Regions from separate parts of the Homo sapiens genome. Here region 2 is linked to region 1. Evidence: fine-mapped expression QTL. A gene starts in region 1. The other region holds a variant in brackets. All regions are shown on one strand. Distances are between the middles of the regions.

Region 1 (2,917 bases):
CAGACCAAAATCCAATTTTATCTTTATCTCAGTTCATCTATTGTCACATAGTATGATGACACCTTTCTGAACTCTCTTATAGCAATGTTTCCTAAATGATGCCTTCCAGACTTAATTTGAATTAGGATGCTATGTCCAGAATTAAGGTCTCATTCACAGTTATGATGTAATTAAGGCAACAATAGCATTTTGTAAAAATAATCTATTAAATATATAGCACCAGCTACCCTTTATTGTTATTAGGATATGGAAGAAGTGGAATTTAACTTAACAATTCTTTACTTAGTTAAGAGGAATATAGCAGTATTTCACAGTGTTCTACAAAAAACATTATGACTTCCATGTATTGCATTAACTGGCAAGTTTAAAAATTAACTTAACTGTTATCTTGTTTTCCAAAATCAAAACTTAGGAACAAACGGCGTGACAAAAGATTTTCTGATCTGTGAATTTATTTAAGTCTTCGAAAGGCAACAAAACTAAATCACCCACTGCTCTGAGGACCAGTTCCCAAGTCATCATGTCCTGCTCCTGTAGATCAAGAAAGATTTGGGCCCACTTCTCTATCTTGGGACTTCTGGTACATGAAAACTAATGTGGAAACAGGTTACAAAAACTATCATATTATATTTTGAAAATTTACATCTAACACACACCATGCAACGTAGTTTTGCTACTCAAAGGTGAATTACAAGATTTATAAAAATGTATTAATTCTTAGAGCAACCACTGGCCAGGAGGCCCAGAAGCTCTAAACAAGTACTGTAATGTTTTTTATTCAAACCTGAAGATGTATCTCTGTGTCTATACTTATAGCCTCAATTAGAGAGAAAGTCAACCAGGAGGCCCTTTCTGAAAGTGAAGCCAAAAAACTCTCACATCACTTCCCCATCTAAGCCGCAGTGACCACTCTCCAACATTGACCACTCTCCAACATAACCCCTCAACTATAGCTGGATGGAGTTCTTGTTTATTCTCCCTGGCATCTCCAACCTTTAATTTTTACAACTTCCCCGCAAATGGATAGCATTCCGTGTTTCTAAGGCTGATTCAAACTCCACGTCTTTCAGGAAGTTTTTTCTAACTCTGTCTCTTGATCTCCAACAGCATTTGTAGTTCATAATGCGAATTTTTGTTCATTACATTCTACCTTCCAAGTTCATCTTCCTGCTTATCCTAATGTGAAGATCAGGACTAAGGCAAGGTGTTCAGCACACACAGTAGGCACTGAATTAATAATATGCCGACCCGTATTTCTTGCAAATCAAACACTGCTCTCGAGTGATTTTCAATTCTACTCATTCCCAAATTGGCTAACAAACCGGTCGGCCAGGCCCCCGAACTACAAGTCCCAGCGGCCTGCGCGGCCCCGGCTCCGGTTATCCCAGCCCAGCTAGTTCTGCCCATGCAGCAGAGCTCCACAAAAGTGCGGGAATGTCTGACAGGGAAGAATCAGAGAAACCTTCACCAGCAGCCCGACATTCACCTGGACGGACAGTGCACTTTTCTTACGTCTGGGCAGGGAAGGCAGGGCGCACCATCTACCGCAGGCTAGGATGATCACCAACCGCCCCACCGCACCCTGCGCCAGCCCTACGGCGCCCGCGGGCTGCAAGTAGCGGCGACCCAGGAGCATGCGCGCTGCCGCCCCTGGCCTGCCAGGACCCAGAGGGAGCGGAGCACGCGCCTTTGGGAATCTTCGGTGCGCCAAGTCTGTTCGCCGCCGGGGTCTATCACCCCCGCCCCTCGCCTCTGCCCGTGAGCGTGTGAGTTGTAGCGTACCCTGGGGTCTGTTCTGGAGGAGGCCTGAGAGCGGGGTTGCCTGGGGCGTGGGTCTCTCATCCCTCTCGTCCTGGTGAAGAAGAAGAGTATACCCAGCGGGTGAGTACCGGCCGCGAGCTCCCGGCTGAGCGGGCGTCCCCGGGGAGGACGCTGCGGGGCGCCGTTGTGGCAAGAGCGGTCGCCCGCGCAGGGCGTGGAGGCGCGAGGCCGGGGGACGCCAGCCGGCAAGTTGCACGGGTTGCAGCGCCCCGGGACCTACTTTCTCTTTGCCGTCGTCCCTGCCTTGCTAGGAAAAGAGGGGAGCTTTGACTTCAGGTGATTTCCTTTGTGGCTTACAAAAGAGCCCCCTAAATATGCAAGCGGTTCCTTTTATTTCCAGAGCTTGCTGTTAGCGTACTAATGTACTATGTTTAAAGTCTTAAATAGGGCATGCCAGACACGCTCACCCATGTGTCGTCATTCATCGCTTAATAAACAGAGTACGGCTCTCATTGTTTTTCTTTTTCCCATTGCCTCGCTCCGAGTTAAAATAACGAGATAAACTAAACGTGATGCGGTTGGGAACTTGTTCAGGGAAACCGGCTGGGGCGAACTTCGGAAACTTGCTAGTGTAGAGAGCCGCACGGTGGTGGTTTGTATGCTTTCACTCATTCAGGCTTTCCACAGTGTTTAACTGCGTTCTGTGTCAGGCATTATGCCCCAACAGTCGTCTTGTGTAAGACTTCCATGCATTTTTAAGCTTTGCTTTTATTTTCTAAATGTACATGTTAATAGAGAATAAACATTATTGACCTCTTTATTCTGATATTAATTGCCTAAGTTTCGTAGGATTGTCTTTATTTTTTAATAGTATGGTGACCAAAAGTAATACTAGTGTTTAACCTTAGTAAGCAAAATAGAGTCCCAGTGTCTCTGACAGCTTGGCACAGTTTCATTTGAGACCGTAAATCCCACCCTGTCTATAGTCTCTGTCATACTTGGTAACAACCCAGATAATTTATCCCTTCTCGCAGCCTCATTCCCACACCTTCTCCATCTGCTGATCGTCTCACTATCTGCCTTCTTCTGGAAACTGTAAACTCTTTTTCTAGACTCCTCATATGTAAACCCCTCTATATCTTTTTTTAAATTTATA
Region 2 (2,917 bases), 66 kb before region 1:
GGACATCCATCAAAGTTCCATTTCTGTTTTCATAGTGATGACTGTCCCATTCCCTGAGTTGAGGAAGAGAGAGTTTCTCTTCTCCAGAACCACAGTTATTCACTTGGGTTCTGGTTTGATACCTTCCTGACTCTGAAGGACCTTATACTCTTTCCAATATATTGGGTCTTTTTCCCCACTGATTTCAATCTTTTGTAAGCTCATCACTTTTAATCACTTCTTTTAAGAAGATAAATATGGCCCCAATTTTTAAGAAATCTGTACCTTGATTCTTTTGTCTTCTGTTATTTTTTAGCATTTTTTTATTGTCAAACTCCTTGGTAAGTAAACTACCCCCACTATGTCAGTTTCGTCCATACCAACGATCTCCTTGTGCTACTGCCATTTAGCTTTTTTCTCTTTGTTTCTTATGTACCGAAGAAAAGCATTTATGAACTCTTACTATGACTCTGGCCATATGCTACTGGTTTTTATATATAATGTTCTCCCTGTTCTTTTTTAAACAGTCTCTAATTTCAGTTTTGATTTTCCATTTAATCCAGTTATGTATAACAATTTTCAAAACTATAATATTTTTAAAACATAATTTTTTAGAGAAGTTTTAGATTTGCAGCAAAATTGAACAAAAGGCACAGAGAGTTCCCATGTACCCCATCCCCATAAACATGCACAGCCTCCCCAGCTGTTAACATCCCTCGCTGGAGTGGTACCTTTTTTTACAATCCATGAACCTACATTGACACATCATTGTCACTCAAAGTCCATAGTTTACATTAGGGTTCACCCTTGGTCTTGTAAATTCTGTAGGTTTTGACAACTGTGTAATGACATGTATCCACCATTATAATGTTATGCAAAATAGTTTCACTACTCTAAAAATCCCGTGTGCTCCAACTATTCATTCTTATCTCCCCCTAGAACCTCTGGCAACCACTGATCTTTCTACTGTCTCCACAGTTTTGCCCTTTCTAGAATGCCATAAGTTATATGAAGCTTTTCATTTCCGTTTATTTTTAAAAATATGTGTTAAGATGTGGAGGGGAGAGGATATCTTTTTGTTATCATTGTTCATTATTTTAAATGATGAAATAAACTTTTTCCTTTATATTTACCATTTCCCTCAAACATAGCACATTATGGAAGCCAGCATTATCATCATTTTCATAGAATTTACTGTACTTATTTCTAGTAATCCCACAAATAATTAATCTGAAAATTAACCCCAACCCTTCTGGGAACTCCCAGAATGATGATAATGCATAAATGATTCTTTGCTAATCCAGAATGACTGGGAGATATACAGGCCCCAGAAATAAAGTCCCTGGGAGTCTTGACCTTTGCCTACAAGTGAGGGACTCTGGGAATGCCTCTCTCATCATCTGTGTGGCTATAATTCCAAGCACTGAAGGGACACATTCTCTTACATATAAATACACATACTGCCTTAGTAGAGTGATTTAAATAAAAGATAAATCAACATTCAAATA[G/A]ACTAAACTCTTCCTATTGCTGCTCAAGTTTTCTCTTTTACACATAATATGTTTTGTGTGATGCTTTGCTGAGACCTGGCATTATTTTTCAAAGATAAAAGTTTATTACCTGCAGTAAGAAGATCTTAATGATTGTGGCATAGGTATCAGAGGAAGACCATTTTCATCTAAGCTCCATGATAGAGAATAGCTAAGTTTTCCTGATGTCAAAAGACAGAGTTCTTCAGTTCCATTTCCCTCAAGAAGAAAAGGCACATCTGTTTATAAAAGGCATTAAAAACATATGAATTGTTTTAAGTGCAGTTGAAGCACATTGTGGGTTTTTTCCTGAGTTTTACTTGTGGAACTCTAGGAACACAAAGGAAGATCTGTGCTAACCCCACTCTTTTTTTTTTTTTTTTTTTGAGACAGAGTTTTGCTCTTGATGCCCAGGCTGGAGTAAAGTGGGGCAATCTCAGCTCCCTGCAACCTCCACCTCCTGGGTTCAAATGATTCTCCTGCCTCAGGCTCCCAAGTAGCTGGGATTACAGGTGTCAACCACCATGCCTGGCTAATTTTTTGTATTTTTTAGTAGAGATGGGGTTTTACCATGTTGGCCAGGCTGGTCTCGAACTCCTGACCTGAGGTGATCCACCTGCCTGGGCCTCCCAAAGTGCTAGGATTACAGGTGTGAGCCACCACGCCCGGCCCTAACTCCACTCTTATCTTAGTGCTCTCCCTCATCTCCTCTCTAAGATCCTTCAAGGACTACAAAAGAGAAGGTAAAGATTGAGATGAATATGTAGAGATGAATATCATGATTTTCTTCCTTTCATGCCTGGAGGCTTCTTAACCATTCTCTGTGGGAGTGGCTTCCAGCAAGAAAGGACCATTGGCAGCAGAAAAAGAGGCCAGCAAGCTGTTCTTTCTCCTCTTTCCTTACATTCCCAAGTCTTCTGCATCTAATCTCCAAAGAGTTTAACAATACTTCTTAAAACTTTTGCTGAGTGCACAGTGTTCCCTAAATTTTTTGAGTCCTGAGTCTTTTGTCCCGGGTCTCCATAAGCTTATTTTTCTGCTTCATCTGGACTTGAAGCAAACTCCGTTCTTCCCTCGTTCTCTGCCCATTTCCCCCCGCCCCCTCCTCCTTGCTCACTTGTTCATACTTCCTTACTTTTCACCAAATAGGCCCAAGTAGTTTCCAAACCCCTAGGAAGGTGAAAGAAAGGAATAATGGGGAGAAGGAGAGGAATGACAGTGATCTCAGAGACGCACTAACTTACATTTAACCGTATAAGAGGAGTAAAATCAATTGAAAAACAACTAACAGAAACATCCCTTCTTTCTTCTCTCCTTTTCTCTGTCCCTCCCTCTTTCCTTCCCTCCCTCATTTTCTTCTTCCCTTCCCTATACAGTTCAAAGACAAACCCATATGTCTGCGAGCACCTGTA

The links. PIP is the estimated chance that this variant, and not a neighbour inherited with it, causes the effect.
Region 2: its variant is the best candidate, but not a certain one, in a credible set for the expression of CC2D2B in whole blood (TOPMed, PIP 0.83).

The regions. Positions count from the first base shown.
Region 1 is chr10:95,906,627-95,909,543 of GRCh38, reverse strand. CC2D2B (coiled-coil and C2 domain containing 2B) reads right to left here and starts at 1,569. Exons shown (of 35, transcript NM_001349008.3): 1 at 1,487-1,569. All of the region lies in intron 2 of ENTPD1-AS1 (ENTPD1 antisense RNA 1), which reads left to right. RefSeq lists enhancers at 1,253-1,312, 1,353-1,542.
Region 2 is chr10:95,972,836-95,975,752 of GRCh38, reverse strand. CC2D2B (coiled-coil and C2 domain containing 2B) reads right to left here. Exons shown (of 35, transcript NM_001349008.3): 17 at 1,597-1,744. The region is part of intron 2 of ENTPD1-AS1 (ENTPD1 antisense RNA 1); the gene reads left to right. Among named protein-coding and RNA genes, the nearest start is that of CC2D2B, 66 kb to the right of the region's middle. The variant G/A (reference allele first, on the strand shown) is at 1,488.